Linked DNA regions of Homo sapiens. The protein of the gene in region 3 interacts with the protein of the main gene of each other region in a pairwise test. Each region holds a gene or a part of one and is shown on either strand. Other genes may lie near its edges. The genes, in order: MYOZ3, KRTAP19-7 and ATXN1L.

The links.
Region 1: the proteins of ATXN1L (region 3) and MYOZ3 interact in binary tests that used the Homo sapiens proteins (3 or more experiments, as listed by UniProt).
Region 2: the proteins of ATXN1L (region 3) and KRTAP19-7 interact in binary tests that used the Homo sapiens proteins (3 or more experiments, as listed by UniProt).

The regions. Positions count from the first base shown.
Region 1 is NC_000005.10:150,671,251-150,675,003, reverse strand, and holds part of MYOZ3 (myozenin-3), read right to left. Parts: intron 3,408-3,753; coding exon 3,354-3,407; intron 3,250-3,353; coding exon 3,096-3,249; intron 2,889-3,095; exon of another isoform or gene 2,665-2,888; coding exon 2,502-2,664; intron 1-2,501. UniProt on the Homo sapiens protein: Myozenins may serve as intracellular binding proteins involved in linking Z line proteins such as alpha-actinin, gamma-filamin, TCAP/telethonin, LDB3/ZASP and localizing calcineurin signaling to the sarcomere.
Region 2 is NC_000021.9:30,560,329-30,563,190, forward strand, and holds KRTAP19-7 (keratin-associated protein 19-7), read right to left. Parts: upstream 987-2,862; 5' UTR 962-986; coding exon 770-961; 3' UTR 547-769; downstream 1-546. UniProt on the Homo sapiens protein: In the hair cortex, hair keratin intermediate filaments are embedded in an interfilamentous matrix, consisting of hair keratin-associated proteins (KRTAP), which are essential for the formation of a rigid and resistant hair shaft through their extensive disulfide bond cross-linking with abundant cysteine residues of hair keratins.
Region 3 is NC_000016.10:71,843,725-71,847,477, reverse strand, and holds the start of ATXN1L (ataxin-1-like), read right to left. Parts: upstream 1,503-3,753; 5' UTR 1,374-1,502; intron 1-1,373. UniProt on the Homo sapiens protein: Chromatin-binding factor that repress Notch signaling in the absence of Notch intracellular domain by acting as a CBF1 corepressor. Binds to the HEY promoter and might assist, along with NCOR2, RBPJ-mediated repression.

The DNA.
Region 1 (3,753 bases), on a different chromosome or scaffold from region 3:
GGGTCTTGCTCTGTCACTCAGGCTAGAGTGTAGTAGAAGGATCTCGGCACACTGCAACCTCCGCCTCCCAGGTTCAAGCGATTCTCCCACCTCAGCCTCCTGAGTAGCTGGGATTACAAGTGTGTGCCAAGAAGCCCAGCTAATTTTTGTATTTTTAGTAGAAATGAGATTTCATCATGTTGGCCAGGCTGGTCTTGAACTTCTGACCTCAAGTGATCCGCCTCCCTCGGCCTCCCAAAGTGGGATTACAGGCATGAGCCACTGCGCCCGGCCTTAATACTGTTTCTTAATTTTAAGAAAAATAAAAATCATTGCTTGTGTTGTTTTTCCAGCAGCCTGGGACCAGTGGGAAGAGGAGAGTGCTTGCCTCTGGGGTGGAAAGACAAACCTTGAGCCAGGGCCTGAGTCCCAGCCAGGAAAGCATTTCTGCCTGGACCACCCCAGTTTTGGTGGCAACAGCCAGGCCTCACAGGAACAGGCTGGGTGGTGTCCAAGCCATGCAAGGCCCACAGTCAGGCCCTTGACTGGGAGCCCAGGACCCTGGAAGCTGAGCACATCTTGGCCACCCAAACTGCTGTTTCTCTTCTCTATGCCTCAGTTGGTCTTTCTCCCTCAGAAGAGGTCTGGATGCAGGGCTCCCTAAGAGCCTCTTTCTGCTGGTGGGAATGTGCCTTGCTGTCATACATGAGGCATGAGATCAGTGGGAGATGCAACCTGAGTGGCCCAGCCTGGAAGCTGCCTGCCAGGACTGAATGTCTGCTGCAGGTTTCAAATGACTGGGCAGGCAGGGTCTGAGGGCCCAGGAGGAGATAGGGCAGTCCTGCCTGCCAGGGAACTCCAGAATGTCTGTTAATGGCTCGTGACTCACACAGCGCATGCTAAGCCCAATTCTTCCCATCAGGAAGTCTCTGCCTATTCAGATATTTGAGGGCAGTCACATCCCTCTGGAGCTGTCTCTTCTCAAGGCAGATCACCCCCAGTTCCTTCAGCCCTTCCTCATATGTGCTGATTTTCCAGGCCTAGCTAGGCTCTGGCGCCCACCCGTCTGTCTTAGACAGACCCAGTCTCCACGTGTGGTCTGAGCAAATGCCAGAAGAGCAGGACCGTGGCGTCCTCTCTGTGGACTCCCCTTTTCCTCACTAAATGCAGCCCAAACCAGAGGAGCATATTCAAAAATAGCACCAGACCAAGGAAGCCAATGCAGTTAACATGCACTCCTCAGCCCAAGGCCTTCCCCCAGTGCCAAGCTCCTGTCTTGATTCCTATGGTTTGTTTTCAGGCCCTCAGTGCAGAATGGTAAATGTATCCCTTTCAAGCTCTCCCCTGTCCAAACTTCATCTCAGCTGTAAATAATAATCATAATACGCCGGGGGCGGTGGCTCATGCCTGTAATCCCAGCACTTTGGGAGGCAAAGGCGGGTGGATCACGAGTTCAGGAGTTCGAGACCAGCCCGGCCAACATAGTGAAACCCTGTCTCTACTAAAAATACAAAAAATTAGCCGGGCACGGTGGTGGGCGCCTGTAATCCCAGCTACTAGGGAGGCTAAGGCAGGAGAATCGCTTGAACCCAGGAGGAAGAGGTTGCAGTGAGCTGAGATTGCGCCATTGCACTCCAGCCCGGGTGACAGTGTGAGACTCCGTCTCAAATAATAATAATAACAACAACAACAATAATAGCTATTGTTTGTTGCAAGTGTCTTACTTGCCAGAAACTTTACCTATGGCTTCTCGTGTCATCTCCATAGCAACTTTATGAAGCAGGTACTATAAACCCCTCATTTTACAGGTGGGGCAATGGAGGCTCAGAGAGGTTAAGTCACTTGCCCAAGGTCAACACGGGCAGGCCTGGGGTCTGCATTCAAGTCCACGTGGAGGCCTCACGCTCTAAACCCATATAGGCCACTGCGCTGTGGCCCTCACTCTGGCGTCCAATGTTTCACTGCCACTCTCCACTTTGGGGCAGCCTCAAAGCTACCTTGTTGGCCTCTTCTAGGCCATTGGTGAAAGGAAAAGCTGAGCTGGCCTCGAACTGCTGAAATCTGGGGACCCCTCAGAGAAGGACACAAATCTAGATGTTCATCAAAGAGGTAGCACACAGCAGCCATGGAGAACAAGGCACTGGGCTCTGGAGTCAGACAAACCCAGACCTGAATCCCGGCCCTGCCGGTGCTTCCTTGTTTTGTGGCTTTGGCCGGGTTGTTCATATTCCTGAGCCGCAGCCTCTTCATCTGCAGAACAGGAAAACTCATAGCACCCGCCCACCATGTCCTGGAGAATATCCAAGATGTGCGGCACCTTCACTCTTCATTTCTCCCACGTTAACTGAGCACCTACCAGGTGCGGAGGCGCTGTTCCAGCCAGAGCTCAGTCAATGAATAGAAAGCGCTGGGGACAGAGCCTGGCCTGCAGAAAGTGCTCAGGAAACGCAGGCTCCCGCTGTGGCTGTGACTGGCTTCCCGCCCCTCCCGGTCTGTCCCCCGGGCTGCCCGCCCCGCCTTACTTGTTGAAATTTCGGTAGTCGTTGGGGCTGGGGGTGTGACTTCGGCCATCGCTCTGGTAGTCCCGGTAGCTGACGAACTCCTGCCAAGGGCAGCGGTAGCCCTTGGAGATGGCGGTGTGGTTGAACTTCTCTGGCGGGACGCCCTTCAGCGGCTCCGCATAGCCTAGGGGCGCGGGGGGAAGGGAGCGCCTCCGTTCTTCCACCCTCAGCCCCCAACCCCACCTCGCCCCACCCCCATTCCGCGGACGCGGTTGGAGGAGGGAAGATCGGAGTTAGGGGAGAGGACGGCGGGAATGGGAAGCCACAGTTGCTCCAGCACAGGAGACCCCTCCCCATCCCAGGAAACACGGAGGACTGCAGTGAGGAAGCCACGAGTTCGCAGCGCGGGTTGGTCTTGGCCTTGGCTGACTCGCTGTGTGACCTGGGGCGCGGCGCCCCTCCGGCTCGTGGTCTGGCGAGGGGAGTGCGCGCGTGCGCGTGTGTGTTGGGGAAGGGGGCGGACTAGCCTTCTGGGTGCTCTTCCTGCCCCATGGGGAGCACACCCATGCTTCAGGCCCCCCAGCCCTGGTCCCGGGACCCGAGGAGGCCACTCACCTGGCGCCAGGGCGCTGGGGCTGGGGACGCACCCAGCAGGGGCGGCTGCAGGGTGGGCGCCCTCGGGACCCCCGAGTGAGGCCCCGGGTGAGGCCGGGAAGATGTGGAGCTCCGAGCGGTAGTTCGGCCCCTCAGGGCCATTGGCATTGGCAACCTGGGCACAGGGGCGGGTTCTCAGAGGCCACCGACGACCTCCCGCCCCCAGCCGCGCTCCCCTTCCCCCAGCTTCCCTTCCAGGGAGCTCCCCTCCACGCTCACCGTCCCCGACTCCGCTGTTCCAGTCACCTTCCTCCTGGCGCTTCCGGCCAGCATCTGGGAACGAGGGGGTAGAATAAACCGCAGAGAAGCTCAGCGGGGCAGGGGACCAGGGTTCTCCCTCCACCAAAAAAAAAGGTCGGGGGGAGGCAAGAATCCTAACGCCCATCATCGGGGAACAAGGATGAGTTACTAGTTTACAACGCTAAACCCAGTGCCTGGGACCGAGAAATACTCGATATATGTTAATTGCTATTGTAATGCCGAGTCCGGGCAAGATACTTAATTTCCCTGAGCCTCAATGTCCTTCTCGATAGAATGAGGATGATGGTGATGAAGATCTCTTCCTCAGAGGGGTCTATGAGCATTAAATGAGATACCTGCAAAGTGCTTAGCTAGCATT
Region 2 (2,862 bases), on a different chromosome or scaffold from region 3:
AAGCTATTGTTAATACTTTGATATAATTCCTTCACACTGTTGTTCTCCAATGTTATAATCTATGTGCAAGCTAAAACCTTTTCTTATTATATTGCTCTGAAATTATCAAGATATTCTCCAAGAAATAGTGAATTAAAAGATTAAGCAGAAGTTTATCACCACAGAAGCATCTTTAACCTTTTGGTGTAGAATTCCTGTTTGCCTGGACAAGAAAATATAGATATTGAGAATGTTAAAGATGAGGAGGAGGAAGAAGACAAAGGAGAAGGGGATAAAGAAAAGAAGATAAAGGAGAGGAAAGGGATGGAAAGGGAGGAAGAAGGTTTAAGGGACAGGAAGAATGACGAGGAGGAGGAGGGTGAAGAAATAATCGTGACATATAACGTATTGGTAATTTTTTTATCTATAAGAAGAAAATATCACCATGGTTGATTATATTAATGCATCACAGCACATTTATTGTGATAAAAATTTGAGGCTCAAAACACATTTACCACATGAGAAAAAGTTCATGGTTAGATATCAGATATTGAAAGACAATCTTTCTTAGAGTATAATGGCTCTCCAGCCAATAAAAAAGTGAATATCTGGAGAACATCACTAATCAAATGCCAATATCTAGTTGATCAAGTTTTCTTCACACTATTGTCAAAAGGCAGGTGATCCAAGCAGCTGTTTTGTTATGGAATATGGAATTCCATATGGTTATGGAATAAAGTTTCTTGGAAGAATTGGGAATCTCACAGAAGACTATATTTCAAGTATTTATTCAATAGAATCCAGAAGACCAGTATCCCCCATAGCATGATGGGTGGCAGCAGCTGTATCTGTAGCCTCCATAGCCACAGCCATAGCCCAGTCTGCGGAAGCTGCCACATCCACAGCTATAGCCATAGCCCAGGCCACCGAATCCTCCACAGCCGTAGCCTAGGCCTCCATAGTAGCTGCCGGAGTAGCTCATGTTGTCAGAAGTGGTTAGCTGTTGTAGGTCAGTTTGGTGACTGTGACTGGACAGGAACATTTATATATACTCTGATGCATGTGGAAAGCCACACCTTTAAATGTCATCCCTTAGAACGTGTTACCTGAAAACTATGCCAACTATCTTGTTTTGTAACACCCATCCCACTCTCTTCCTTGTTTATGAAGCTAGTTATTTAGAAATTATACAACATGTTTTATTTTCTGCTTTATTTGGATTTCTAGATAAGTGTTTTGCCTCTAATAAAATGTAGTTGCATTTATATTCACTGTACATGTATGAGTTTCTGAGTTTCAAATGCCATAAACAAATCTCTATAGCTTCAAGTATTCTTCAAATTGCATCTCATGCAATTACATTTATCCTCTGATTGCACTCTTTCCTTTGACAGTCCATGGCTGCTGAGCCTTTTCTAAGCCAAGGATGTTATCTTTATTCTGCCAAGAATTCACAAAAATTGAAACATTATTGTTCTCTGAAATGGCAATCAACTATGATGTATGTCTTTATACAATGTGCTTTTAAAGTCAGCTGGGAACCACATTTTATAGTGGAATGATGATATTTAATTTTTAAAAGAGTCACAAATTAATGTCAAAGGAATTTCTCAAATATTATGCTTCATGTAGAGCCAGCCTGCTTAGTAGATACCATTAAAGTGTGCATAAAGTCCCTGCCAATCCCTTATGAATAGTTTCCTCTCCCCAAATTTAATCTTAGTCTAGATTCTAAATTTCGTACTATCATAGGATCATATAATTATAGAATTAAAGAGACTTGAGTCATCATTTATTTCAGTGTTCTTGTTACTGATGAGAAAAATGGATTCAGAGAGACAAGCAGAGTTACGCAACAGTGAAACTTAGTGGCAGATTAGGACTAAAACCTAAGTACTTTGATTATTGGCCTTAGTTCAGCAGATGCATTTGAAATCAAAGATTGCAGGTTAGGGTATATCTTCTCCCACAATGCCCAGCTGCCTTATATTTTTGTTTCATATCATCAATATAAATAAAAGCAAATGACATGAAACCAGTAAGCATATATGCTCAGCTACTCCTGCTATATATATATATATATGTATATATATATATATACATGTATGTATGTATATATACACTTTAAGTACTGAGGTAAATGTGCAAAACGCGCAGGTTTGTTACATAGGTATACATGTGCCATGGTGGTTTGCTGCACCCATCGACCCATCGTCTATGTTAGGTATTTCTCCTAATGCTGTCCCTCCCCTAGTCCCCCACCCCCTGACAGGCCCTGGTGTGTGATGTTCCCCTCCCTGTGTCCATGTGTTCTCATTGATTAACTCCCACTTATGAGTGAGAACATGTGGTGTTTGCTTTTCTGTTCTTGTGTTAGTTTGCTGAGAATGGTGGTTCCAGCTTCATCCATGTCCCTGCAAAGGACATGAACTCATCCTTTTTTATGGCTGCAGAGTATTCCATGGTATATATGTGCCACATTTTCTTTATCCAGGAACCTCAAAGAATACAGGTTATTTTTGAACTTCATTTATACTGATTAAACTTATTTCCTTTACCAGTTTATTAAAAGTGCTACATAACTAGGTACTTAACATATTTCCATCCTGAGGGAACTTTGCAAACTACAAGTTGAAGGGAATTATTAATGGTAAAGAATTGCTGTATTTGAATTTGCTTCAGTTAAGAAAATGTAGGTTCAATATAATTTTAGGTAATTTTTTAAAAAGACTATTATCTTTAGCACTTGTCACAATCCAGATAAAACCAGATATATTTGCTTGGTAGGGAAAATATTATTATCAGGAATAGAAGATCCCAGAACCTCCAATCTAGGAATTATTTTCTAGGGTCCTCTGCTTTATTTGATTCCTAAAAGTGAAG
Region 3 (3,753 bases):
CAAGGAGAAGACTTATTAAGAGATTTTCAGGGTTAAAAAAAAATGAGCATATGTGTGTGTGTATGTAAAATTTTCTGAGTGACAGTATACCAAGTGCTGAATCAGGTATGAAAGAAACTGAAAATATTGCCTTGGTCCTCAGCTGGCTAACACTGGTGAAACAAAACTACCACTAAACCATCACTATGTGAATCTACACTTGCCAGAAACGCAAAGCGAGAAAGAATGGAGCCTTAACCTCTGAAAACAGAGAAGGCAGTACAGATGAGTGAGTGCTCTGAGAAACTGACTATCCTGTCCAAGTCCTATAGAACACTCTAAGCCTCAACCCAAACCGAATGCAACATTTCTCTCTTAAGATTGGCAAGGTGCAGGTGTACACAAAAGGTGGAAGGATAGGAAAACACAGTGGGAAAACAAATTCCTAATTCCACAAACACATATTATTACACAGTGGCATAAATAATGACTCTTTTCTCCACCAGCAGCTTTAATAACTGAAAAGCAGCTTGCTTTCTTCTTCATTCCCAACAGAAACTGGGGTCACACTTCAATCCCAAAATGATCCTTGCTTTCTGTAACGAAAACTTTAAAGAAAACCTGCCTCCAGGTCACCGAGAAGTTAGCAAACACAGGCTAGTAAAGGGACCGAAAGAGGCAAAAGGTCTGCAGAAAGGAAAACAAAGAGCCAAGCCTGTGCGCCAGGTTCCCACAACGCAAAACACACTTAAGAATCCGAAACCTCCGCCTCTCGAGAACCTCACTGAGCATCTCAAAGGGAAAACGCAGCTTGTGACCCCAACCGAGCTAACAGGCTGTTCAGGAGAGTTGCCAACGCTGCTAGCAGAGCCCGGAACCAAGCTCCTCATCACGCTTGGGTCGGAATCAAGGGGCTGAACCCAGCTGGAGACCCAAATTCTCTGCGGGCGAGAGGTGCGCCCGACAGAAAGGGAGAAGCTTGTCAGAGACTACGGTTATGGCTCCCAGTGGTCCCGCAATCCTTGATCCAACAAGGGTAGGGCTCGAAATTGGGAATTCTGCGTTTAGAGAGTAGGGGGTCCACCCTTCACCAAGGGGGCAGGGGCGAGGCCCTGCAGGCGACGCTTCCTTGTTTGGGGGCCCTTCCCGCCCCACAGACTCGGACACCTTGGCTCGCAGGCACACAGCCTCCGGGGCGCCGGGGCCTGAGGCCACCTTCCAGGACAGGCCAGAGAGAAGCGCGAGGGGGTCTAGGTGCGGCCTCTCCCCTCCGTCTGTCCACGGTTCATGGGCCCCGGCCCGCCGGAGCAACGGGCTCCTGAGGGCCACTTCCTCCGGAGCACCGACCCCAGGCCTGCCTGGCCCCGGCGGCCACCACTTCCAGGGACACTCACCAGCCCATTTCACAGCGCTTCCCAGGATCCACTCACTCGTCCCGGAGCCGCCGCAACCGCGGCCGCCGCCATCCCCGGCCCCGGAGCCGCCCCACACCCAGCGCCCCCCACAGCCGGGCGCCCGGAGATGGCGTCAAGCTCGTCCCGCCCCCGGCGCGGAGAGATTGCGTCACGGCCGGGGTGGGAGAGCAACGCCCAGGACTCCCCGGGAAGGGAGGGTGCCACACTGCCTTCGCGTCGGGCGTTCCCTCTGGTGGGTGAACAAACTCCTCTCCCTGGGACCGGGTCACGTGAATAGGGCTGGGCCCGGCCCCCTCAGCCTGACCCCACAATGACCCCGCAATCTTTCCACCTCAGTAAATTTTGGGGGTTCCCAAACAGAGCCCCGGGGCGTGGTCATCGGCGACCCCCCATTTCCTGGACTTCTTGTCCTGACTTGTGCAGCCCCTTCTGGGGAACTTCGGGGGACCCCGAGGTGACCTAGGCTCAGGAGAAAAGGAGATACCTCTTACCTCTTGGGGACCCAGGTGGAGATAGGAAGTCTTCTTTTTTTCTTTTCTTTCTTTTTTTTGGAGACAGTTTCGCTCTTGTTGCCCAGGCTAGAGTGCAATGGCACGATCTCGGCTCACCCAACCTCCGCCTGCCAGGTTCAAGCAATTCTCCTATCTCAGCCTCCCGAGTAGCTGGGATTACAGGCATGCGCCACCACACCTGGCTAATTTTTTGTATTTTTAGTAGAGACAGGGTTTCTCCTTGCTGGTCAGGCTGGTCTCGAACTCCCGACCTCAGGTGATCCCCACACCTCGGCCTGCCAAAGTGCTGGGATTACAGGCGTGAGCCACCGTGCCAGGTCAATAGGAGCTCTGTAAGTGTTGAGAAGTGGCCCCCGAGGGAGCTAAGAGTGAACCCCACTCAGGATCTAGGGGAAGGTGACAAGGAGTGGAACACCTGAAAGTTTAGAGAGAGCCCGGGGTTTAGTACAGTGAGAAGCAGCTTGGTTTAGTGGAAAGAGGGCTTGACTACTCAGTGAAATATTATTCATTACAAATTAACTAATTATTCATTACAAATTAACTGGTCAACTTCATAGTAACATGAACATCTGATTAACTTAAGTGAAGACAAAAGTGAGCGCCAGTTGAATTTATGTTTGAATAACAACTGTGTTTTTGTTGTTGTTTGTTTTAAAGTATTAGGTTGGTGCAAAAGTAATTGCGGTTTTGGCCACCGAAATGGAGACTTTCAGTTTCTTCAAACTCTGTTCAATAAATAACAATTGGGCCAGGCGCGGTGGCTCACGCCTGCAATCCCAGCACTTTGGGAGGCCAAGGCCGGCGGATCACGAGGTCAGGAGATCGCAGACCATCCTGGCTAACACGGCGAAACCCCGTCTCTACTAAAAATACAGAAAATTAGCCGGGCATGGTGGCGGGCACCTGTACTCCCAGCTACTCGGGAGGCTGAAGCAGGAGAATGGCATGAACCCGGGAGGCAGAGCTTGCAGTGAGCCGAGATCGTGCCACTGCACTCCAGCCTGGGCAATAGAGTGAGACTCCGTCTTAAAAAAAAAAAAAGAAAAAAAAAGATATGTCATTGCAGTTGCGTGTATGTGTGTGTGTGTGTGTACATATAATTTTTTTTTTTTTTTAGCCCTGTCGCCCAGGTTAGAGTGCAGTGGTGCCATCTTAGCTCACTGCAGCCTCAAATTCCTGTGCTCAAGCAGTCCTCCCACCTCAGCCTCTGGGGTAGGTGCGATGATAGGCATGCACTACCATGCCCAGCTAATTTTTTAAAATTTCTTGCAGAGACAAGGTCTTGCTATGTTGCCCAGGCTGGTCTTAGACTCCTGTGCTCAAGTGATCTTCCCTCCTCGGCCTCCCAAAGTGCTGACATTTCAGTCATGAGCCAACCACACCCAGCGTCGGTTGTATGTATTTCTGTGTATCTGTACAGAAAAGGAGTAGAACACATAACTAATTAACATTGGTTATTTTTGGGAAGGAAAGTGGAATTGGGTGGTGGTCAAAAGGCAAAGAAACAACTTATATTATTGTTTGAATATTTAGGAGAATATTATCTTAGAAATAAAAAAAGTAAGTTGAGATCCAGATACAATGCATGATCTCTAAGATTCTTTCTAGGGAAGCCTTAGATCTCAATTATATTTTCTCACCTGGATGGACACATAGGGCCATAAAAAATTATCAAGTACCACACAGACACACACACAGACACACACACACACGCACACATACACACAGCACAAATGGGAAAAAACATAGTGAAGTTACTGCTGTCATCTAAATCATCTGAGTGTTTTGCTTCATTAATATTAATATTGTTCATGACAGTCTCCTTCTCTCTCAGTTTGGCCAAGAAG